Homo sapiens: one gene and its partners. The protein of the gene in region 3 interacts with the protein of the main gene of each other region in a pairwise test. Each region holds a gene or a part of one and is shown on either strand. Other genes may lie near its edges.

Region 1 (7,032 bases), on a different chromosome or scaffold from region 3:
AGTCATGTTTTGGGAACTCTCTGCAGTCACAATGCTGATTCCCTGGCTAGGACCGGGCATGAAATTGATGTTATGTACAGAATCGGTTACGAGAAGCTGAATTTCCTGCTCTCCCGAGGTAGAGAGTTGATATGGCTGTAGCTGAAGAATATTCCTGACCTCTTCTGTATTACTACTGCCAGAAATGCTGCTGGCATCTGAAGCATGCTTCTCCTTGCTATGAATTTTCAAGTGAGCCTTCAAGTTGTCTAAGCGAGCAAACTGTAAGTTACACTCAGGGCAGGAGAAAGGCTTCTTGCCAGTGTGTAGAATGCAGTGTCTCCTTTTGGCACTGGAGTCAGAGAAGGATTTGCCACAAATGCCACAGGAGTATGGCTTTTCTCCTCTGTAAGAAAATAAACATTTTATTTTTAAAATGGAAATACCTACTTACTACTTCCTGATTATTTAGGGGGAAGCAATCAAGAGTAGTGGAAAATTAACTAGACTGCAAGTCATAAGTCATGGGTTCACCTACTAATTCAAGGACTTGAAGCAAGTCTCGCTTCCATGGGCAGTTTTTAATCTGAAAATAGGGTGTGGGTGGTGCCTGAGGAAGGGTGGCAGATGGGGCACGGCTATATATGATAAAATTTTATGATTCCACAGTATGTATTTCAGATAAGAAAAGAGAGTAAATATTTATACAATAAACATATAGTTCTCTTTTGTTTTGTCTTAGTTTTCAGAGCCAATTTTTAGACTCTAATGGCCCAATAAGTATCTATGATTAATGTCAATTTAAAAAATTTAAGCATCCTCTAATTATTTGTGATGCTGTCAGAAGAACTCCTAAGTCCAACCTGGGGATAACTGTGTAAACAAAAACATTTATTCAGAAAACATCAAATTTAATACTTATTTTTGATTGAAGATTTAAGCTTTGGACCAATCCGTAGCCCCAATCAAAATTTAATAAATGAAATCAGTAATGTAAACTTTTACTGGCCAGAATCAGCATTCCTTTTTACCTAGGTGAGGAATTTCATTATTGAAAAGATAAAACAAAATAGGCCAGGTGTGGTGGCTCACACCTGTAATCCCAACACTTTGGGAGGCCCAGGCAGGCGGATCACTTGAGGTCAGGAGTCTGAGACCAGCCTGGTCAACATGGTGAAATCCCGTCTCTACCAAAAAAATACAAAAACTAGCTGGGTGTGGTATCCCAGTTACTCAGGAGGCCACGGTGGGAGAATCGCCTGAACTCCCACCTGCACTCCACTCACACCACTGCACTCCAGCCTGGGCGACAGTGAGACCCTGTCTCAAAACAAACAAACAAAACAAAGCCAAAGTAATAAACTGCACACAAAATTCTGCAAAGTAACAACTGGGAGAAAACTATATAGGTAACACATGTCACCTCACTGAACAGCAGAACTGAATGAGGCCTCCATGCGAGAAAAATATCTGCAAAACTTTACCGATGGATTCTGATGTGGGTCTGAAGAGAACTCTTTGCTGTGAAAGATTTGCCACAGATTTCACAAGTAAATGGCTTCTCACCTAAAAAAAACAAAAACAAAAACAAAAAACCCAAAACAAAAAAACATTTAACAATATACATTCAGAATAAGACAAAATTAAAAAAACACTTCGGTTTCACAATATAAACAGAACAAAGGCAATCCCCTCCGTAAGCGTAAACGAATGATGCACTCACCAAATATCTACTCTGTAACTAACCTAAGCACTGTGTGCCGAGTGCCAAGAGCATACACAGAAATCGTAAGGCATGGTTCTCTTAAAAACCTGAAAACTGCAACAAGGAAGTGAGTTACACTGTATTTACTCCTGTTTTCTCCCCTTAGATATTACAGCACCTATGCTCTCCTGCCTTATTGCTTGGCTAGGTAGCCCACTTGACCCTGAAAGGACTCCTGTGTGCTAGGGTGAGTTATGTATTATTCATGTTTATATCAACCTTCCAAATATATCCAGAATCTGACCACTGCTCAGTACCTCCACTGCCACTCTCTTGTCCACACCACCACCATCTCTTGCCTCTTATGGGGTCTCCATTTCTGCTCTTGCTTCCCTGCCATAAACTATCAATATGGCCACCAGAGTGAGCCTTGATGCAGTCAGGTCATTTTATGCTTGGGCTGCAAATGTTCTGATGATTTCCCACCCCAGGATAAAACCCAAAGTTCTTGCCCTACAAGCGATCATAGATCTGTACCCCATAAACCCTACTCCTCACCCCAAACTTCCCGGATCTCATCTCAGGGTGTCTCCCAGCATGGTTCACTCTCCTCATCTCCTTCAAGTCTCTGTTCACATGTTATTTTATCAGTGAGGCTCCATCACCACCAAGAGCACTACAAACCTTGCCACGCACTCCTTAGTCCAATTCTCCAATTTAGTTTTTCCACAATGCTATTGCTGCCTCATATAATGTATAAGTTATTTATTATCCATTTCTTCCTTTTTAAGATAACTTGTGGGTATGTCTGCTCCTAGTACCCCAGTGCCGAGAATCTGGCCTGGCATGCCATTTCAGAAATCCCTGCTGAATGAACTTCATGGGAGTGGCACACCTGAGATGCTATAACTGCTCCAGAACCCACCAGGCTTCACTAACATCAGCAAGTGCTTATTCAGTGTGTTTGCATGCTGAACATACAATGACAGACTGTTCATGTTCCCCAGAAACAAAATTAAGTAATCCAATGCAGGCAAGAAAACTAAATTGGAAAAAAAGAAAAAAAAAAAAAAAGCAAGCAGCAAAATCCACTTAACTGGAGAACAGGAGAACAGCAAAGGATAAGTACAATTTGAAATGGAAGATGGTCAGTGAGCTTCCCTTTCACAGCATCTACTGGAAAATTCAGGCAAGACATTTCTCCAAGCTCCATCGAGGCAGAGGACAGCTGTAACAACTCGGATGAATCTGCATCTTTGCATCATGAACTCTTACCACTACAAAGATTAAAACCAGGCAACTGCCATAATCTGTCTATAGCTTTCTACATCAGAGCTGGGGCCTTCTCTGATCTTGGTTGGTTTTCTCCCTCTCCAGATTCAAAGACTGAGTACCTGCTGTTTGCTTGTGATTGTAAAATTCTTGTTGCAGTTTTCAGGTTTTTAAGAGAAAGAACAGCAACAATCATCCATAACAACATTAACTATACCATTCAGCTCCAGCTGAGTTTCTATTTCAGAAAGTCTGTCTGATGGCAAATGTTTTTTGAGGGTAAGTGTTTGCAGGAGCAACATCCTGCAGTGGAAGCTCTTTGAGGGAGTGAGCAGGACAGTGGGAAGGCAAATTTCCCTAGCCAAGGTCAATCTGCAGGGGGTCTTCCCGCTTAGTGGTTTCTGATCTGTTCCCCTGTGCACAGCTCTACCACCTTCAATGGAGACACCCATTCCTTAAATTTATTTAGTTCTCAAACACTGATAGACCATCAATAAAGTACACAGCTAAGAAACAAAAAAGAAACTTTTCTAATCTACTTGAGGAGATGCACAAACTAATTAAGTAACATAGGGCTGTGTTTCACTGAACATTAAAACGAGTGGCGTCAACAATTCTGAGTGCAGACAGGGTGCTGGATGGGGTGGGCAGGATCTGGCTAGACTGGAAAGAAGCCTGGGCCAGGGTACTAGTCTAAATAGTATGAGCAGAAGCTGGTGTCAGAAATGACTACACGGTGTGCACCAGTGACCAAGGATCACTGTCAGGAGTCAGGAGGCCAAGGCAACAGGAGCTATGAAATCCAGGCAGGGGACCTGTGGAGCCTCTGGAAGTTTTTAGCAGAATGACATGCTGAAAGTACTAAGAAAATACACCTGGGAATGATGAGGAGGGTGGGCTAGAGGCAGGAGGACCTCTAACAGGCTATGCACAAGGCCTGGACCAGGAGGTGGCAGGAGGCAGACGGAGAAGGATAAGGTAATAGGACAGGGCCTGAGAGGCATGGGGACCGGAAAGAAGTGTGTTACAAGAGGATTAGACAATAGCGATTAAAGGAAAAGGCAGAGACAGGAGTGTGATGAAAGGTTCCACCCAGGGTGATGTCAACAGAAGTACTGAAACAGCTCCAGGGTGTACTTCCAGACCCTCTTCTCAGCAGTTACTACACCAATCCCACCCACCCAGGGTGATGTCAACGGAAGTACTGAAACAGCTCCAGGGTGTACTTCCAGATCCTCTTCTCAGCAGTTACTCCACCGATCCCACCCCTACCCTTCCCCAGTGACTTAAATCCCGGACCCCACTCCAGATAGGATCGATGAGTCACTGCTTATTGGCATCACAGCTGGATTTCCCATGCCCACCTGCTGAAACCCAGAATAACATGGGGCATGACATGTTAATGACAACATCACCCAGCCCCTGTCCAGCCAGGCACAACAATCACAGTGACACCTCCCATTCCCTCAGCTGTCACATTCACCTGGCAGTCCAGTTCCGTCCGTGTGGACCCCTCAGCATCCTGCCTCCCACTGTGGACCACGGCTTTGTTTTTCTTAAAAAATTACTGTGTTCATTGTAAAAGAATCAAATATTGAAAATACAAAGAATATTAAAACTGCTCCACTATTCTCATCTCTTGAGACAACCAGTTAACAATGGCGAATATCTTTACAGACAAATCTGTTTATTTGCGGTCTTACTGTGTGAGGTCATCCAATGCATGCCGTTTGTCACATCAGTAAAGCCACACCACCATTTTAAAACCCTGTGCTGTGTACCATTGTGTGTACTGCCCCAAATTTACCTATCTAATCCCCTCCTGGGACATTCAGGTGGCTGTTAAGCTTGTTAAGTTATAAACAATGCTGCCTATGATGAATATCCTTAGGCAAACATCTTTTCACAATTGTGCAGTTTATGTTTTGGTAAGTATTGCAAAAGTTCCTTCCAGGGGGTTCCCAAATTATATTCCCACCAACAATAAATAAAGATGTGCATTTCCTCATGTACTTGCCAATCTTGGCAAAAAAGGGACACATGTCCATGATAACTGTGGATAGCATGGTTTGACACCTGTGTACTTGGCATTCCTATATGGTCTTCTCAGCTGTTTCCTGTCCTGTGTTCACACCTCTGCTGTGGCTCTGACCACGCCATACTGTTTCATAGTAGATGGCACGTAGACTCTGTAAGGGCATGTTATGGTGAGGGGCCCCCAGGTCTCAGGAAGATGGGAAGACCCCCAGGTCTCAACGTTAATGGATGGTCTCAACACACAGTTGAAGAGATTTGGGAAGCTTCAACTTCAAGCCACAATGAGGCTGTGAACAGAACTGTGACTTACTGAACTTTATCATTTGTTCCCTGACAGGGCCATCTACCTGTGAGTAGGAACCCTCAGGGCAGAATCAGTGTTTATGGAACACCATCCAGGAACAGGGACACTGGCGGGGTGGGACTGTGCTGTGGGGTCAGAGGTCACTCACCAGGCTTCTCTGTGACCTGGGCTAATTCCCTTGACTTGTTCCCAGCTCACCATGCAATCTTCTGATCACTAACTTGGCTTTCGGGTCACTAATGTGAGGAAGGAGGTGCTGTGGGCAACAGAAAGGTGTAATCCCTCTATTGAGTTGATATATCCTCTGGTTTATCTGTCCTGTGAACTCATTTGGCTTGATTGGGTCCCTGTAAACCTGACCAGTGCCAGGTATGGGGACAAGATGTGAGCAGAAGGGCCTGAGATGTGGTGACCTGGCAGGTACTGCTTGTCTGCCTGACACTTTGCCTCCATGTCAAAATGTGTTCACCTCCCTCACTGGGGATGCACTCCTAGGAAAGGGAACATCTCTAATTTGCCTTTGACTTCTCCAGTGCTTGGTGCAGGACATCTAACCCAGAGAGTTTGTGCCTAAAGATCTAAGAGATGAATGACAGCTCATCTCTAAGAGATGAAGTCTTGGTTTCCAGCTGAGCATGGCCCTGAGAGTAGGACTGGCACTTCTCACTCTGAATGCCCAGGGAGCAGGGAAATGGCACGCCAATGCCCTTCACCAACATTCAAGCAGATTCTCCATGCTGATGCTAGGGACAGATGGGTCATAGTTGCTGCTCTTGAAGAACCCCAATTTTTTGATAGGTTCAATTTCTTTTCATATTTCTAAGTCATGCAAACCACAGAGGCCCGTCTGTCTCCTTTTTAACTCATCACACATCTTCCACTTTCTGTTCTGCTTCTCAAAGTTGACAGGCTGAGAAGAGTTTGCTGGAATTATAGTGGGGGAGGTCTTCTGTTCCTTTTCATCCCCACTTCAAGTCCTACTGCTACTCACAAAGCCCAGAAACCTCACTCCCCCTTATGCTCAGGCAACAGAACCAAGGGGAAGTGCCTCTTCTGGCACTGCTCAGCATGACCAAGCCAGCTCCACGCTCCTCCACCACCGCTGTCTCCCTAGGGAACTCAGCACAGCGCCACCCACTATTTGCAGGCACATGTGCACCTGTGGAAATCCAGAGCTCTGGCTGCATCTCTCCCCCGAATTCTCCAGACCTGGAAATCTAATGATCTACCCCACACCTGCACATGGATGTCAAATAGACACCAACCAGTCCACAATCTAACTCCTGATCTGTTCTTCTTAGTCTTCCCTAGCTTTTCCTCCTCACAGTGGCTTTTGCCTCCTCTTTCAACTCCCACATCCAATCATGAGCGAATCACATGAATTCTTCCCTGGACTATCTCCAGAACTGGACCACCTGACACCACCTCTGCTGCTACTGTGCTGTTCCGAGCCCCACTACTGCACAGCCTCCTGATGGGTCTCTCTGCCTCCACCCTGGCCTCGCCCCCACCTCACAGGGTGGCTAGAGTGACCCTATTACAACCCTAAGTCATGCCATGTCACTCATCTCAGTAAAGCCATCTCCCTCAGAATAAAATCCAATCTTTACTGTGGCCTTCAAAGTACTTCAGCCCGAGTGCACCCTACAACTGTTGAGGGGTACTTTAAAAAACACCAATTCCCAGGCTCTGCCCAGGTGAAGTCAATCAGAATCTTGGCAGCTGGGACAAGGCT
Region 2 (7,032 bases), on a different chromosome or scaffold from region 3:
TGAGGAACAGCCCCCATGGTCTAATCACCTCCCACAAGTTTCCTCCCCCAACACGTGGGGATTACAATTTGGATTACAGTTCAACGTAAGATTTGGGTGGCCAGACTCTATCCCTATCCAAGCATATCCTCTCAAAACTCTGCCTTCCTATTTTTTAATCTCTGTTTTCTTCCCCTTTTCAATCTATATTATTAGAAACAAATGCTCCATCACCCTCAACCCCAATTCTCCTCAGCTTTGATCTGGAAGTGTCTTTGGGAATGAGATTTTCCTCAAGGCTCAGGCAAATCTGGGCTGAGCACTCCTAAAATCATTATTCACCCAAACAGGCTTCCTCTGGCCTCTCTGGGGTTGGATTATACACATTCTCAGCTCCAGGAATGGAAAGGTGGACAAGCACAAAGCAACCTTATCCAAAAATAAGAAATTATGTAGCATCCTTTTCCTTATATTATAGTATATTCCCTCAGGACAGCTATATACTGGACGCTCAGGTCAAATAAGCCTAGGCTCAAATTCTGACCCCAGAGTCAAACTGCTGGGGTTGGAACCCTGACTGTACTATTTCTGGGTGACCTTGAGCCAGGTTTGAAGTTCCCTGAACCTGTGTTTTCTCATCAGAGAAAGGGAACTAGTTAATAATAACAGCACTTCCTAGAGCTATTTGATTAAAAAATTAGATAATGAATGTAAAGCCTTTAACACCGTCCCTTGCAGACAGCAAGAGGACAGTACATGTTACCTCCATGTGCCACACAGCCAGTGGGGCTGGGGAAGCCCTGCATGGCCTGTTGGAAAAGCTGCAATTATCAGGTTGGTGCAAAAGTAGTTGCAGGTTTTGCCATTAAAGACTACTTTTTCACCAGCCTATAGAAAGAAGGGGTCCTCTTGGACTCTATTTTCTGCCTTGCTCTAAGGCTCACCTCAGTGGCTCCTACTGCCCAGAAAGTTCCAGGCATTGCCTAGAATATTTCATAGGCCAGGAGCATCCATCCATTGGCAAAAGGCCACCTCCACAATGATAGGAAACGTGAGCTCGTGGGGAGTGGACAGTGGTTTGGTGCTCAATGCCTGAAGTCCATTGAGATTGACAGAGGGATCGCTTGCTAACTTGCTCCCAATGCACAGAACACAAAGAGGATGCAATGCCCGGTGGAAATTACTACACCCCATGTCTAGGACCCTGTGACTACAGCTAATGCCAACTTGAAAGCAAAGTCACTTCAAGGCAATCAGGAGTCGCTGAGCCTTCATTGCTCAGCCCACTTACTGTGTTTTGGTGACTCGGTGTCTCTCTCCCCGTGCTGGCTTCTCAGCTCAGAATATCTGGGACTCCAGCGTTCCTCTCAAGGCAACTAATTTGTACATAACTTTGGAATGTTTGTGAGTGTTCACAAAATAAAACTGAATAGTACTCGAGTGCCTGGCTCAAACCTTGCTCCACAGTCCCTCCCTCAAGTCCCCATTACCTACGCAAAAGCTGCTCTAGTTGATTAATCAAGTTGAAAATCCAAGTGTGGAAAACTCTGGTAGCTGTGTTCCAGAGTAAAATCCAGCTCTAGCTGGAAAACTGTGAGTGTATTTGACCAAGAGAGTTCAAGTTCAGGCACTTCTCTTTGATAGACTGGCTATAACTGAGTCTAACCAAGAGGCAATACTAATTCACACGATTCCAGGGGAATTTCAAAGGTGATCTTGTCCATTTAATTGCAGTGAAATACCTGGCACATTACGTGGAAAATATTAGGTACTCAATAAGTATTTGGTGAAGGTTGAATATTCGTAAGTGGGTCCTTATCATATTATATGGTCAGCATTCACAACCACTAGTAAGAACAACTGCTTGACTATTTTTTGTCAGGATGGAAAAAGAGGTTGGGATTTGTGCCTTAACAAGGAACCAGAAAATAAGGTCTTTAATATCATTTGCTTCAGGCTTTTAATCGGTGGAAAGAACAAAGTTGTTACAAATGACTTGCACTCCCAGCGAATAAACAGCAACGTTCCTGCAACAACCATTTAATCTATTAGAATAGTAGAATCTTCAAACATGTTCAAGAAATGGATGAGATTATATATATTCTCATCAGTCCATAAAACTATTACAGATTTATCCAATAGTGTGCTGTAGTCTGAGCTATTCAAACAGAATAATCATAAACAAGTAGCCTAAAATGCATGGTTTTCATGTTTACAGCCGTTTGCTTAGTTTTTCAAATAATTAAAGGTTTTCTCCTTCAAACATAACTTTGTATAAAGTACAGCTTATCTCTGGATAAACTGTGACACTTTACAAAGAATTATATTCTTTAGGAGTGAATAATGTTAAATTAAGGTTCCTGGGAAATGTTTTGAGTTGGTTTCATCTTTTTTCCTTTCTCAGAGGTTTGTATTATTTTATCTTATTATTATTATTATTATTATTATTGAGACAGGGTCACTCTCAGTCACCCTGGAATGAATGCAGTGGTGCGATCATTGCCTACTGCAACCTCAATCTCCCAGGCTCAAGTGATCCTCCTGCCTCCATCTCCTGAGTAGCTGAGACTACAGGCATGCTCTACCACACTTAACTAATTTTATTTTATTTTATTTTATTTTATTTTATTTATTTATTTATTTTAGTACAGACGAGGTCTTGCTATACGTTGCTTGGGCTGTTCTCAAACTCCTGAGCTCAAGTGATCTTTCCACCTCAGCCTCCCAAAGTGCTGGGTCAAATTCCTGATTTCAAGTGATCCTCACACCTCAGACTCCCAAAGTGCTGGGATTATAGGCATGAGCCACTGTGCCTGGCCTATTTTCCTGTTTTAGACTAAGGTTCAGTCTCTATTAATATATGTACATTTGCCTATAAGTAGTTAAATGTTCTATTCCTCTCTGGCGTTACAGATCAGTGCATAAAACTCTGAAGAATGCAGTTTCCTTCACAATAGTCAGGAAAAAAAGAACTTCTACCCTGTCCAAATTTGAAAAAATCTATCCAGTCACAGATTTCTACTGCATAGTTAGAAAAAGATTATATAAAATTAACAAGTCTAAAGAAAATTAAATATGGATCAATTAAGAGGAGGAGAAAAAAGATATTTTTAGTTTTACATAGATTAAATGTATTAGCTTCCTATAATGATATTTACCTGTTAAAAGAATGTTGTTCTGCTGGGGATAATCATGTAATAGGAATTAGGGTAATTCAAATTCTGCTGAAAAGGGGATTTAAGAGATTCTTATGTCACAGGGAAACTCAAGAATATGCTTGAAATCCTGGCTATTTATGCTGTCATTAAAGTACTTATGCAGGTACCAGCCTAAATTTATGGATCAAAGTGATCAACGATTACAGATGAACCACTAAAATGATCTAACATCCATTTATTGAGAAGTTTCCACTTGCTGTACACTTAAATTGCAGCCTTAGATTTTATATTTGGATCAAAGTTCCATCACATTGCATCATTTTCAGAATATTTGAACTTTTATTTCAATACAAACTGAGGTAAATAAATATCCCCCCCAAATAGACGCTGATGTTCCATATCTAACAAGTAACCAAATTGTCATGATAATCTGGGATCACTATCTAGACTCCATTTATGAAAGAAAATCTTTTATAGATTTCACAATAGCCTGATTTTCATTTTGTAAATGTGTCTCATTGTTGAGAGTGTCTTTATTCACTCCCATTCAATGATGAAGTGACTCTACTGTTTGAGGCCCAATGCCACAAGTTAACTTCATAGAAATGAGTCACGTCCAATTTGGCCCCTAGAAGTGCTTGCCAGCAATACAGATGGGCTTATTACTAGCACATAAAATTACTTTCATTCTTTACCTCCTGTATTAGCTTCCAAGAAGGGCTCCATTGGTTTATAATATTTTTGTTTTCTTCTAAGTATATACGCTTACTTTCATTTGGCCCATACATCAACGCAATTGGTTAGTTTTTTTATTTTTTCAGAGACAGAGTCTTACTCTGCTGCCCAGGCTGTACACCAGTGGCACAATCATAGCTCACTGCAGCTTCAAACTCCTATGCTCAAGAGATCCTTCTGCCTCAGCCTCCTGAGTAGCTGGGATTACAGGCACACATCACCACACCTGGCCACATTTTTTTGTTTTTGTAGAGATGGGATCTTGCTTTATTGCCCAGTGGGTCTTCAACTCCTGGCATCAAGCGATCCTCCCAACTCCGCTTCCCAAAGTGCTAGGATTACAGGCATCAACCACCCCACCTGGCCTGGTTTGGTATTTTTATCTCAGCTTTTATAGATGAGACAACTCAAGCGTGGAGAAGTTAAATGCTTGCTTGTAGCGCAAAACTATCATATACTACAGGCAGGACACTCAAGTCTCCTAGCCTTTTGATCTGCGGTGTTCCCGCTAAAAAATTGAGCCTAATAGAAGGCCCCATCAATATGGGTCCAATGATACTCAAAATGGAAATTGAATATTTTAAAATTAGATTGGGTATTGTTATGAAAGAGCAGCATGAGGGATCTTTGTGGTGACGGAACAGTCACATATCTTGACTGTGGTTGTGAACTACCCAGGAATGGTTCTGAGGTCCCCCCAGTCCCCTTTTGTTCCCTGCTGGCTGGAAGCATTTCCTACGTGGTACCACCTGACTGCCTAAGAAGACAATCACGGATGTGCAATCATGTCAAGGCACAGGCAGTTTCCTGGAAAAAAGAACAACTCCTTTCCACTATCTCTTCACTAAGGAATAGAAAAGAATTTCACTTGGGCGATTTTAAAGTAGAGAGCAAATCTGCTCTGCTCAGACTCGCCCTTGGTGTCAAATCACTATTTATATAACAAAACCTTTAACATAAATGAAAACAATGTAATGTGTAGAATGGTAGACCACAGGCTCAGAGACACAAAGGTCTGGGTTTGAATCCCTCTCCCCTGCCTATTGTGGTGGTTTGAGGCAGGGGACTTTACCTCTCTAAGCTTCAATTTCATGGAGATAACAATAGTACTATTTCCCAGAACTGTTTTAAGAAGTGGCTTAAATAGCATAAAAAGGAACAAGATCATGTCCTTTGCAGGGACATGGATGGAGCTGGAAGCCATTATCCTCAGCAAACTAACGCAGGAACAAGAAACCAAATACCGCATGTTCTCACTTACAAGTGGGAGCTGAACAATGAGAACACATGGACATAGGGAGCGGAAAAACACACACTGAGGCCTGTGAGGGCCGGGGGAGAGGGAGAGCATCAGGAAGAATAAGCTAATGGATGCTGGGCTTCACACCTAGGTGATGAGTTGATCTATGCAGCAAACCACCATGGCACACATTTACCTATGTAACAAACCTGCATATCCTGCACATGCACACTGGAACGTAAAGTAAAAGTTGAAGAAAAAAAAAAAGAAATTGTAAATGTAACTAAATGTAAATGTAAACTAAAAGGTAAAAATAAAAGTGCAGATCACAGTGTCTAGAACCTAGCAAGTGCTCAGTAATATCATTGGTTTTTTATTCAGCATTCCACGTATGAAATATTCAGAAAATGCTATAGAATCTGTTGGGAATCCTATCTTGCTGCTGTTTCTATTTCAATGCTTAGTGCATGCTGGGTTTTTGTTTCTTCAATTAATTCTTTCATTTCTAACTTGACTTAGTTTTCCTTGACGATCTGGTCATTTTTTTATTCAGACTTCTTTTGAAAGACTCATCCACATTCTAGTAACTTTGGGCTGAGTTTAAGCTGGCTCACTTTTCACCTTTCAGCTGCTTCTATGTCAATCCCTGTGTCAGTCTGGGAGACCTGTCTTTGCTCACATTTGTTCAGCCCTTTGCCTTTTTGTCTGCCGACTATCTCTCCTTTCTAAGACAAAGATTGATTCTAAGACAAAGACAGAAGATTCTTTTCAATGCCTACAAGCCAAAATATTTTATTTTGGTTACGTCCCTGATAAGGGACTCCATGGTGACCTGCTGGCCCTGTGAGACGGCAGGGCCAAGATTCTAACAACAGGAATGATAATTCTTGAATCTATAAAATAATCTGTGACTCTATAGAAATGTTTTTATGACCTCTCCCTATGAGTACCAAGATGATAAACATATGGCAACATTCCCTAAGAAATGTATTAACAATTATATTGGGAGATTTAAATTTAACTTATAATTAATAACTGACAAATTGACTATTGCATTTTTTAGGAAATCATCAAACTCAGGTTTAGACGCAGTTATAAGTCATCCAGAGAAAATAACCCATTTTCATGTCATTCTAGGAATTAATCAGACCAGCCAGCCCCAGTGGGACCACGTTTCCTTTTTCTCACTTCAGAGTTGACACATGATTCTGCACCAGCCTTACTCTCAAAGGGGATTTCCCTACAAAGACTAAATAACATAAATTTTAAGTGTCATTTCTTAGACTGCAATGAACCATGAACTTCAGCACACTATCACTAAAACATTGCTTTTGTCGTCCTGTTGGTGGAAGATTTAAGGAGGGTTACATTTTTGTCCATTTCTTTTCTTTTCCTTTTCCTTTTTTTTTTTTTTTTTTTTGAGATGAAGTCTCCCTCATTGCCCAGGCTGGAGTGCAGCTGCGTGATCTCGGCTCACTGCGCCTCCCGGATTCAAGTGGTTCTTGTGCCTCAGCCTCTTGAGTAGCTGGGATTACGTGCGCCCGCACCATGCCCAGCTAATTTTTGTATTTTTGGTAGAAACAGGGTTTCGCCATGTTGGCCAGAGTGGTTTGGAACTCCTGACCTCAGGTGATCCGCCCGCCTTGGCCTCCCAAAGTCCTGGGATTACAGGCATGAGAGCCACCGCACCCGGGCCTATTTACTTTCTTTCAACGTTTGTTTTATTTTCAGATTATTAAAATAGTTCAGGTATGTTCCACTAATGAAAAATCTGGGAAGAAAATAGAGTACAAAGTACAAAGAAAGAAGAACCACGAGCTATAAGCCCACTACTCATATATTAACATTTTAATGCATTTCACCCAAATCTTGCTTCTCTGCAGTATTTTTACATAGTTGAAAAAGTTATGTTCCTCCTTT
Region 3 (7,032 bases):
GACCAATAACAACTAACAACATTGAAGCTATAATAAAAAGTCCTCCAGCAAAGAAAAGCCTCGGACTCCATGGCTTCACTGCTGAATTCTACCAAACATTTAAAGAATTAACACCAACCCTACTCAAACTATTCTGAAGAATGGAAGAGGAGGGAATACATCCAAACTCATTCTATGAGGCCAGTATTACCCTGATACCAAAACCAGACAAAGACATATCAAAAAAAAAAAAAAAAAAGAGAGAGAGAGAGAAAAACCTACAGGCCAATATCCCTGATTAATATTGATGCAAAAATCTTCAACAAAATACTAGCAAACCAAATTCAACAACACATTAAAAAGATCATTCATCATCAACAAGTGGGATTTATCCCAGGGATGAAAGGATGATTCAACATATGCAAATCAATCAATGTGATACATCATTATCAACAGACTGAAAGACAAAAACCATATGATCGTTTCAACTGATACTGAAAAAGCACTTGATAAAATTCAACATTCCTTCATGATTTAAAAAAAAAACCCTAAAAAAACTAGGTATAAAAGGAACATACCTCCACATAATAAAAGCCATGTATGACAGACCCACAGGCAGTATCACACTGAATCGGGAAAAACTGAAAGCCTTTCCTCTAAGATCTAGAACAGAACAAGGATAAAAAATTGACAAACCTTTAGCCAGACTATGAAGGAAGAAAGGAAAAAAGATTCAAATAAAATCAGAGATGAAAAAGGACTGGAATTGCTGTAGTTAGGACTAGAATTGCTCTAGCTAGAGATGAAAAAGGACTGGAATTGCTCTAGCTAGCAGTTAGACATGAGAAAGGAAAAAAAGGCCATCAAAATTTGAAATCAAATTATCCTTGTTTGCAGGTGACATGATCTTATATTTGGAAAAACCTGAAGACTCCACCAAAAAGCTATTTGAACTGGTAAACAAATTCAGTAAAGCTGCAAGACACAAAATCAGCTTAGAAAAATCAGTAGCATTTCTATAAACCAACAAGGACAATCTGAAAAAGAAATCAAAACAGTAATCCCATTTACAATAGCCACAAAGAAAATTAAACACCTAGGAATTAACTGAACCAATGAAGTAAAACATCTCTACAATGAAAATTATAAAATACTGATGACAGAAATTGAAGAGGCCACAAAAAAATGAAAAGATATTCCATGTTCATAGATTGAAACAATCAATATTGTTAAAATATCTATATTACTCAAAGCAATCTACAGATTCAATGCAAATGCCTAGCAAAATACCAATGACATTCTTCACAGAAATAGACAAAATAATCCTAAAATTTAAAGCACAAAAGACCCAGAATAGCCAAAGCTATCCTGAGCAAAAAGAATAAAACTGGAGGAATCACATTAACTGACTTCAAATTATATTGCAGAGCTATATTAACTAAAACAGCATACTACTGCCACCAAAACAGACACATAGACCAATGGAACAGAACAGAAAACCCAGAAACAAATCCACATACTGACAGTGAACTCATTATTGACAAAGGTGCCAAGAACATACATTGGGGAAAGAAAAGTCTCTTCAATGAATGGTGCTGGGATATCCATATGCAGAAGAATGGAACTAGACCCCTATCTCTCACCATATACAAAAATCAAATAAAAATGAATCAAGACTTAAATCTAAGCCCTCAAACTATGAAAGTACTACAAAAAAATTGGGGAAACTCTCCAGGACATTGGATTGGGCAAAGATTTCTTGAGTAATATACCACAAGCACAGGCAACCAAAGCAAAAATAGACAGGTGGGGTCACATTGAGTTAAAAAGCTTCTGCACGGCAAAGGAAACAACAAAGTGAAGAGACAACCCACAGAATGGGAGAAAATATTTGTAAACTACCCATCTGACGAGGGTTAATAGCCAGGATGTATAAGGATCTGAAACAACTTTTTTTTTTTGAGTCTCACTCTGTCGCCCAGGCTGGAGTGCAGTGGCACAATCTCGGCTCACTGCAACCTCTGCCTCCCAGGTTCAAGCGATTCTCCTGCCTCAGCCTCCTGAGTAGCTGGGATTATAGGCACATGCCACCACACTGGCCAATTTTTTATATTTTTGGTAGGAAATCAGCATATTAAAGAGATATCTGCACTCTCATGTTTACTGCAGCATTATTCACAAAAGCCAAGATTTGGAAGCAACCCAAGTGTCCACTGACAGACAAATGGATAAAGAAAATCTGGTACATATACATAATGGAGTACTACTCAGCCATAAAAAAAGAATGAGCTCCTGTCATTTGCAACAACATGGATGGAACTGGAAGTCATTATTTTAAGTGAAATAAGCCAGGCACAGAAAGACAAACATCACATGTTCTCATTTATTTGTGGGATCCAAAAATCAAAACAATTGAACTCATGGAGACACAGAGTAGAAGGATGGTTACCAAAGGCTGGGAAGAGTAACAGGTGGGCTGAAAGGAAGAGGGGATGGTCAATGGGTACAAAAAAATAGAAAAAAAGAATAAGATCTAATATTTGCTAGCACAATGGGTTGACTATATTCAATAATAATATAATTGCACACTTTTAAGTAACTAAAAGAGAATAATTGGATTGTTTCTAACACAAAGGATAAATGCTTAAGATGGTGGCTACCTCATTTACCCTGATATGATTATTATATATTATATGGTGTATCAAAATATCCCATGTAACCCATAAACATACACATCTGTGCACCCATGAAATTAAAAAAATTTTAAATTGTAAAAGTTCATATTAAAAAAAATCTCTACAGACAAGAAAAATATACTAGAAAGACGTGCTCACAAAACAGATAGGAACTATAACCTCTATATTAAAACAAACTAAAATACATGTAAAACTCTGTAAGACATAAACAACATAATTAGAAATAAAACTTGGAAATGAGCTGATAGAATCTAGAAATTAGTAACTTTTAAAAACTAATTATTTCTGAAATGAAGATTAAAGAAGGAAAATGAATGAGTAAAGACTACAGACAATGCCTTAAGAGAAATAGAGATTAAAAGGAAAACAATTTTAAAAAATTAAAAAGAAATGAAGAAGAAATATGAAAATGACAAAGATAGGCAAAGAAGCTCAAACATACACATAATAGTGGTAATTGAAAAAGAAAACTAAAACAACAGAACCAATTAAAAAAACTATAATTCAGGAAACTTTCCTGATTTTAAAATTCATACAGAGCTGCAAAAGATCTATAAAAGACAAAACAACTTTGAAAAAGAACAGGCTGGCCATGGTGGCTCACACCTGTAATCCCAGCACTCTGGGAGGCTGAGGCAGGAGGACAGCTTGAGGCCCAGGAATTCAAGACCAGACTGGGCAACATAGCAAGACCCCATCTCTACAAAAAAAAGATTAGCCAGGCATTGTGGCATGAACCTGTAGTCCTCGCTACTTAGGTGGCTGAGGTGGGAAGACAACTTGAACCCAGGAGTTTAATCAGTGAGCTATGATTGTGCCACTGCACTCTAGGCTGGGTGACAAAGCAAGACCCTATCTCTAAATTAATAAATGAATGAATGAAAAAGAAGAACAAAGTTGAAGGACTAATACTATATCATTTCAAGGTTTATAAAGCTATAGTAATCAAGACAATATAGCATTGATATCAAGATAGACAAACAGATTAATGAAACTAAATAGATTCCAGAAACAGACTCATACATATATGGACAACTAATTTTCACCAAAGATACGAAGGTAATTTAGCAGGAAAAACGATAGTTTTTTTTTTTCAATAAATGATGCTAGAACAATGGGATGCCCATGTACAAAAAAAAGAGAAAGAAACAGGACTTTCAGCCATATCTCACACCATATACAAAAAAATTAAAATGAATGACATAAATCTAAAACTTAAAATCACAACATGTCTAGAAAAACACAGAAAAACTGTATGGCCTTGAGTTAGGCAAACATGTCTATGATATGACACCAAAAGCATGATACAATTCAAGAACAAATGGGGCTTCATAAAAATAATGTCTGCTCTTTAAAATATAACATTCTGAGAATGAAAAGAGAAACCACATACTCAGAGAAAATAGTCAGGAATCAGAAAAGGTTCATATCCAGAATATATAGGGAACTCTCAAAACTTAGTAAGGAAGTTAACATCAACAAGAAGTAAACAACTGAACTTAAAAATGGTCAAAAAATTTCAATAGACATTTCACAAAAGAAGACATACAGATGGCAGCTAGGCACACAAAAAGATGCTAAACATTGTTAGTCAGGAGGGAAATGCAAATTAAAACACACGATGTGACACCACTACACATATTAGAATGGCTAAGAATGACTAGACCAAGTGTTTTCGAGGATGTGAGGGAACTAGAACTCTCATATACTGCCGACGGGAATTTAAACTAGTACAACCACTTTGTAAATCACTTTGGCTATTTCTTAAAAGGTTAATAAGCACTTACCATAAGACCCAGTCATGCCATTCCTAGAATTTACCCAAGAGAAATGAAAGCATTATGTCCACACAAAGACTGTACACAAATGTTCGTAAGAGCTTTATCTATAATAGCCAGAAACTGGAAACAACTCAAATGTCCAGCAGCAGGTGAACAGACACACAAACTGTGGTATACCCATTGGATGGAATACCCCTCAGCAATAAAAAAGAATATGTGCAACATGGATAAATGTCAAAATAATTACGCTGAAAGCCAGCCATAAAATAGTACATACTATAACATTCCATTTATATAAAACTCTAGAAAATGAAAACCAACTGTGGTGATAGAAAGCAGATCAGTGGTTGCTGAGAGAATTGGAGGCTAGACACAGAGACTACTAACGAGAACAAGGGAATTTGGGGGGATGATGGATATATTGACAATCCTGATTGGGGTGGTTTCATAGGTGTATATGTAAGTCAAAACTTATACTACATATGTGCAGCTTATTGTATATTAAATATATCAATAAAGCTGTTTTAAAAATAAAGTTTTCCTGAAATTTAAAAAAAGATTTGAAACTACAAATGGAAAGAAAATATGAAGTACCTGAGAATACTGACCCAAAACAACCAACACAGTGATATATTCTAATATTATTAGCAGACTTTAATGAAAAAGAAAAAATTTGGCTGGGCGTAGTGGCTCATGCCTGTAATCTCAGCACTTTGGAAGCCTGAGGCAGGTGGATCACTTGAGCCTGGGTTCATGACCAGCCTGGGCAACTTGGCAAAACCCTGTCTCTCAAGAAAAAAAAAAAAAAAAATTAGCTGGGTGTGGCAGCATACACCTGTAGTCCTAGCTACTCAGGAGGCTGAGGTGGGAGGACTGCTTGAACCCAGGAGGTGGAGGCTGCAGTGAGCCAAGATCATACCACTGCACTACAGCCAGGGTGACAGAGTAAGACTGTATCTCAAAAAGAAAAAAAGAAAACAAATTATTTGGTTATCTACAAGAAAAAAACCCACATGACTTATAAGAAGAAGAAAAATTAGATAATAATCTGACTTTGATACCAATACTTTATTCCAGAAGAAAAAGGAGTAATGTATTTAAGAAATTCACGGAAAAGAAGTGTGAGCCAAAGACTTTATATCTGCAAAATTGACTTTGAAGTATAAAAAGAATAAACTTTGATCAATATATAAGAACTCAGACAATATTACTTCCCGAGGAATCTAACAATGTATTAGCTTCAGGTAGCCAAAATGCCTAGAGAGACCTCAGCATAAACACTGGTGGTAAACATTAAATATATTAATAGAACTAATAGGCTAAGAGGGAAAAAGCAGAACATGAAATGGCTATATACTCTGACAATGCAGATAGAGCATAACTGTTAAAACAGAGAGAGAAGAAAAAATGAGAAGAACATAAGCCAAAAAAAAAAGGTTTAATGTTTTCAGTAATCATATTGATGGTGATTTCAGAAATATAGTTCTGATACTGTCATATGTATAATACAGAATAATGAGTAAATATGGAATATTCTATTTTCTCCTATATTCTTGAGAATCATGATTCTCAGTATGGAAAAAAGGAGTTACAGTTGTGATAGAGAAGTTGTTAAGTAAAAGCTCTGTAATCTCAATCTGAAGACTGGAAGTAGAATACATTAGGTATCTTTTAACATGTGTGTCTATAGACAGATACAGGTATCCTAGCTCTGTCTACTGAAATGCCTGAAACAGTGACTAACTCAGGATCTTTAGCATTCAGACTGTAACTGAAATATTATTTCCCTCTAAATGAAACCCGGGCATTTTAAAGAAATGGCTGATTTCATATCTGCGATAGGAATTGTTCAATATATTATATAACAAGGAAGCTATCAAAAACTAGGAGGCCAGGCTCACAGTGCAGCTTGGCCAACATGGTGATACCCCGTTTCTACTAAAAATACTAAAAAAAAAAAAAAAATAGCCGATCCTGGTGGTGTGTGCCTATAATCCCAGCTACTTAGGAGGCTGAGGCAGGAGAATCACTTGAACCCAGGAGACAGAGGTTGCAGACAGCTGAGATCGTGCCACTGCACTCCAGCCTGGACAACAGAATGAGACTCTATCTCATAAATAAATAATAAAAAAAAAACAGGGAAGTGATTACTACAAAACTATAAAACCCAGAAGAATGGTGACTAAATGGGAACACAGGAGTTTTGACTGGGATAGGGTAATGGAGGGGATCTGGCATACCTGAATGGTATGGTCCTGTAATAATTTATTAAGCTATACATTTGGTATGTGATTTATAACAAAAATTTCATTTTACGCTAAAAAGATTTTGTTAAATAACAAAAAATAGAAAAGTAAAGGAAATGCTAACCTAACCAAAATAAAGCTGGTACGGGTTGAACGTTCCTAATATGAATATTTGAAATCCAAAATGCTCCAAAATCCAAAACTTTTTGAGCACCAACTTGACACCACAAGTAGAAAATTCCACACCTGACCTTATGTGACAGGTCACAGTCACAACTTCATTTCATGCATAAAACTATTAAAAATGTATAAAATTAGCTTCAGGCTGTG
Region 4 (5,587 bases), on a different chromosome or scaffold from region 3:
CTCCTGGGAAGATTGTCCGGTGGTAGGGGTAGCTCCAGGCGGTTTCTGCTCAGCAACCCCAGGGTCAGACAGACCCGGGTCTTGGCCCCAGGAGAACAGGGCTGAAAGGTAACCCTCCCAGTGCCACCCCTGGCAGGCCAGGCCTTGTTTGGCTCCCCAGGTGGGTGGCGGTGGCGCGTGGGGTGATGGCTCCCTGCGACTCCTGGTGATGCTGGAGGCCAGGCCTGATGCTCGGTGTGGGTTTACCCTACCGGAGTGACCCAGCACGACAATCATGGCTGTGTCCCCTGGGTCTTGAGGAGGAGAGGGGTTATTTTGGTCAGAGACAGGCAGTGAGGACGGCCTCAGGCAGAGGTGCTGAAGCACCACGTCTAGGATTGAGTGGCTTTGGTTTTACAGCTAAAGATAGGGCGATGCTTCTATCCCCGATAAGAGGAACGGGGAAAGGGCCAGAGAAGAGGGCTTGGCCCAGACACAGGGAGATGAGACAGGGAGGGAATCGTACCCATTGAGTGTTGTGGAAATCCTTTATTCCGTCCATGACAATGCAGAGCTTGCACGGCCACCTCCCACCCATCCCCTCCCCTGCACAAGGCCACCTGCTCCAATCTCCTTTCTTAACAGCTCTTGGCTGCTACAGACGCAGGCAGGGACCTTTGATTGTGTGGAAGCTTCTTGTTGAGAAATTTCTGAAGCTTGCTTAGCCACTAAGGAGTCAGTTGAAAATGTCTCTCTAAAGACTAAAGAAGACGTGAGACCCCTGCTTTGAGAACTCTGGAGTAAAGGAACCTGGCCTGGTATCAGGAGAGGTGGATGGAGTTCTGACTGCTGCTCACCAGCCGTGCAATCCTGAGCAAGTTATCCTAACACAGCCACGGATTCCGACTCAGCGGCCCGCTAGCATGGTAGCCCCAGGGCGGCCAGGGTTTGTCTGTTTGTCCTTTGCTGTAATTCCCAGCGCCGACAACAGTAACTGGTACATGGTGGTCTTGCTGAATAAGTGAACAAGTGCCTACCTAGCACATTGTACCAAGGATCATACGATATTAACGTATTTAACATTTTTTAACTAAAAAGTATTAGAAAAATGTTATTCAGTGCATCTGTGCCTTGTAAATGTGGCATAAAAGTGACACATAGATAAGTCTAAATATGTGTAATACAGAGCTTTCTTTTTCCCAGTCCCCACACAAAAATCTTAATTCCTCTACCATGTTCCCCACACAAGAAAAGGCAAAAAAAACAAAAAAAAAAAACAAAACAAAACCAAGTACTTCAATAAAAAGGTGGGACGCTTCAAGCGAGAGACAACTGAATTAACTTTATTCTCTTCTAACTGCAGATTCAAGGTATACAACTGAACATTGCTATTTTTCTTATGAGACTTATAAATAAAAATACAAAAAATGTTCACTACAAAAAAATCTACTGTTAGTAGGATGTAAAAAATATTCTCTTTGCTATAGAAGGCACAAACTTCACTTAGTGACACATGGAGAGAGAAAAAAACCTGCAGCAGTAAATTCATTTTTTCTTTTTTTTTCCTTTTTTTTTTTTTTTAAATCTTGTCAGAAACACTGAAATTACAAAGAAACGCGTCAATCTACACGAAACGAAGGCAGATGCGGAAAGCTGCAACCAGGACTGCACAACTTCGAGTGAAACTGCTTCGGAACTAGAACAGATAAGGAGCGGCAAGCACAACTCGGGGAAGTGGGCTGGGGAGGGGGCAGCAGGAGGCAGGAGAGAGGGAGAGAGAATGGAGTGGACAGAAATGAGACGGGGAGCCAGAGGGAGGAGGGGAGGGCGGGAGAGGGAGATGGAGAGGGCAAGGGTGAGAGGTGGGGAGGAGAGAAAGAGAGAAAGAGATTGATTTGTACAAAAAAGTAACCAGTAAAATTGAAGAAACAAAATTGGGCAACCTCCTAAAATTAGGCTAAGAGGAGGTGCTGAGGTAGACATTAACTAGAACATTGATGAATTAAAAACACTATTCTGTAATACAGAGCAATCCGACTGGCACTTGTGCTATCACGACATAAGACAAGCCACAAAAACAAACAAATAACAAAACGAAACATAATACCCAAACCAAAAGGCTTAGTTTTGCTTGGTCCAGCAGGGCAGCAGGGCCCTCAGTGCTATAATTTACATACATATATATATATATTTATCTTTATATATACGGGTTGGATGTCATGGTGCACCACCACGGCTTCTTAACCTTACGAAGATCATGCATAACACTATGTGAACAAATCCTATGATACACACCAGGAGGCTGGTACCCTGTCTGCGAAGTTGGATGCCAAGGGCCCGGGGAGGCCGCAGCTGCTGGCTAACCGGCCTGCAGGGCCTGCACCCCTCTTTCTCCCCACCCTTTTCCCCTGACCCAACCTCTCTGGTTTGTCCTGCACCCCTCTCCTGGCCATCTCTGCCTTTTTCCTCTCCCCATCTGTCCCACCGCGTAGGGTGAGTCTCGCCTTTCATCCTCCCACTGAAATATCCAGGTAAGTGCCACCATTACAGCCAAGCCGGCAGAGGCTCCAGGAAGGAGGAGGTATGATGGGAGGGGGAAAGATGACCACAGGATGGGCCTAGGAAAAGTGAATGAACAGAGTCTCATCTTCTGCTTTTCTGTCTCACATCCTGGTGCGCCCCCAGTTTTCACCCTAGCTCGGCTTGCCGGGAAGCAGGCCCAGAAACTACCCTGACCCTGCCAGCCGTCATGGACAGAGTCGAAAGGCTGCCCCACCTCTGCTCTCTCCCCTATAGGGAGGTAAGCTCAATGGCCCTCTTCCATCCACAGCAATTGTACCAATAGCATCCAGAAAGGTACCATACACTTGTGAAAAATTGCAGCAGTTTTTTTTTCTTTTTTTTCTCAACATGGAAAAACTGTTCAGGCACAAAGATTAAACAAGCCCGCGTTGCATCCCTTGGATTGTACTGAATCACTGGGTCCCCCAGCCTCCCTACCTACCCCTGCACCCCAGATCTGCCTTCCCCATATTCATGGCCTCCTCCTCCAAAGCAGCCCAAAGCAGCAATGATATTTACTATTTTATATCAATCTCTTGCTATATATATATATATCTATATATCTATATATTTGTCTATCCTATATATACATAGGATTTTAATGCTTTGAATGAGTGAAGGAGTGAATAGGGAAAGAGCACATGAGGTGTAAATGTCACCAAATGCATTAAGGGACATATTTGTAGGAGCTGGACATGGGAAAGGGACTATTAACCAACGTGGCCTTGCCAGGCTGGAGAAGTTTTTCACTGTGCTGGATAAGGCAGTAGCAAGCAGGGTTGTCAGCAGTACCACAGCTAAAGGCAGCCAGGGGGCCGAAGGAGTCAGGTGGCATGAAGAAGAGGGGAGGACAGATATTCAGATCCCACCTGGGGAGAGACCCCTGTCTACCCTCCTCCTCTCCCCTTAACTCCAGACACATATAAAGCCTCCAGACAGCCTCTTAGCTTGCCCCCTGGCCACTAGGCCGTGCAACATTAGAACTGTTCTGTTGTTGTAGGTAGGAAGTTGGAGAAGAGGCATGTTAGACTCTATTCAGGTGTCTTCATGGGGAGAGGAAGGTACAGTAAGTTCAGAGGTGTCCCCAGACAGTAGCCCTCAGAAACCACACTCCCCTGAGCTCTCCCCATACCTCCCTACTGGGGTCTGCAGGGCCCACGGGGTTGGGTGGGGCATCCAGGTGCTGATTTAGTACCATCCATTGCTGCAACACCAGATTACGACAATACTGCATGATTTAACACACAACCACACACACAAAGCACACGCGCACACGCACATACATGTACAAAGGGATATTTTGGTGGTGGTGGATTTTTTTTTGTCTTTTGTCTTCCTATTCACATTACAAAAGGAAAGGGCAAGGTTCTGCAGAACTGACGAAGGAACTAACAGATACTACAAAAATATTACAATTTGTGAAGATTAGCTCAACCCTCTCAGCTTTTATGAATGGAGCGGGGAGGGGCCCAGGCTGAGTGGGAAGGGCATGGGAGTGAGGGGGCCAGCTAGTTCTATGGAATAGTTTGATTTTTTTCTCTTCCTTCCCCACCAATGTTGAATGACATCTTGCTGTTAAAAATACTGTTTTCTGGGATTTACAGATCCCCTGAGGGCCAGCCAGTCCCCGCTTCTTCCCAGACCAGAGGAGGAAGCCATAGTGCATAATGATTTCTTACAGACGGCCCCTCCCCCAAATGATTTCACCCTTTTCACATTATAAACATGACAACTGTTCTAGTCACGTATTTCAAGTTTAACTTCTTTTCCTTTCCAAAACACTAAGTCGTTACTATAGTTGCAAAATAGCATCCTCCCTACTTTACCATCCCTAATCCACAGTCTAGTGACACCGTCCTCCCAATTCACATCCTCCCAACACACAATTTTAAGGCCTTCAGATTTGGTGGATGAGATTGAAGGGGAGGGCAGGAGGGCTGGGGCCGAGGGACGGGGGGGTCGTCGCAGCAGCACCCATCCCTCCGGCTTCCCTACATTCCTCGTGATCCTTCTCCCCAAAACCGCTTCCCTAAACCACTTTGTAAAACCTAAGATCAAAACGCAGCCACAACTTTCTCAGAGAGAGAAAGGAAAGAAAAAATAATAATAAAAAACTCTTACACATAAAGCATGAGATGAAACGGAGGGTCCGTCCCAAAGCAAACACGAATATTGCAAATGTGCTTTCCAAAATTCAGGAGGGTCGGGGGAGGTTGGGGAAAAGAGGGAGGAAGAGCAGCAGAATGGGAGGCGGGAAAGGAACAAAAGAACAACTGGACAAACATAAGAGGTAGCTTTTAGAAAAACAACACCCCCACCCCAACACAACAAAACAAAGGCTGGATCCCGCCCCCCTCCCCAAAGACCAGCCGTGAAAATAGACCAATTCTGGCAATGAGAATGCACGCACAGAGGTGAGACCACACAGTTGCAAGGATCCAAACACAGGCCCTCAAACCTCAATGGCCCAGCAAATTGTAAGAAAGGTGGGATTCTCTCCAGAGTGTTTTAGGCGGAACGGATGGTGGCCACAGGTGACTTCATGCACCAGCGGAGCCAAAAGTGACTCCCTAGTGCCCTCTGGGGACCATGAGACCCCAAAGCAACATCCCCTCCCCACCCACGCTCTTCGCCCTCCTCGGCCCTCACATTCAGATCCTGAGTATCAACTCCTCCTGCACAGTTCCTGCCAGCTGGGAGGCTGGTCTCCAGGGGCACGGGGAGGGTCTTGACCAGCTGAAGTCTATAAAAACAACTATTAATTTACACAAGAAACAGAAAAGAACACCCTCCCCATTCCTCCAAGCCCCAACCGAAAAAGAGATACAGAGGTTAAGAAAGCTCATGAGGTCACAAAAAACTGAGGTAATTCAAGTACAATGTGCTAACAGGGGACACAGAAAAGAAGCAAAACATAACACAAGGCCAAAGCGCTTTCAAATCCTCCTCCTCCTGCAGCTCCTCCCCCTCCTTCTGCTCCTCCTCCTCCTCCTCTCCACTGTGGACCGAGGGGCGCTGTGAGTCAGGAATTCTGTGCGACTCTCTC

Evidence for each region.
Region 1: the proteins of CEP70 (region 3) and ZBTB24 interact in binary tests that used the Homo sapiens proteins (3 or more experiments, as listed by UniProt).
Region 2: the proteins of CEP70 (region 3) and IPCEF1 interact in binary tests that used the Homo sapiens proteins (3 or more experiments, as listed by UniProt).
Region 4: the proteins of CEP70 (region 3) and ZBTB16 interact in binary tests that used the Homo sapiens proteins (3 or more experiments, as listed by UniProt).

Annotation. Positions count from the first base shown.
Region 1 is NC_000006.12:109,466,190-109,473,221, forward strand, and holds part of ZBTB24 (zinc finger and BTB domain-containing protein 24), read right to left. Parts: intron 1,546-7,032; coding exon 1,464-1,545; intron 386-1,463; coding exon 1-385. UniProt on the Homo sapiens protein: May be involved in BMP2-induced transcription.
Region 2 is NC_000006.12:154,346,782-154,353,813, forward strand, and holds part of IPCEF1 (interactor protein for cytohesin exchange factors 1), read right to left. Parts: intron 1-7,032. UniProt on the Homo sapiens protein: Enhances the promotion of guanine-nucleotide exchange by PSCD2 on ARF6 in a concentration-dependent manner.
Region 3 is NC_000003.12:138,584,242-138,591,273, forward strand, and holds part of CEP70 (centrosomal protein of 70 kDa), read right to left. Parts: intron 1-7,032.
Region 4 is NC_000011.10:114,251,692-114,257,278, reverse strand, and holds the end of ZBTB16 (zinc finger and BTB domain-containing protein 16), read right to left. Parts: 3' UTR 514-5,587; downstream 1-513. UniProt on the Homo sapiens protein: Acts as a transcriptional repressor. Transcriptional repression may be mediated through recruitment of histone deacetylases to target promoters. May play a role in myeloid maturation and in the development and/or maintenance of other differentiated tissues.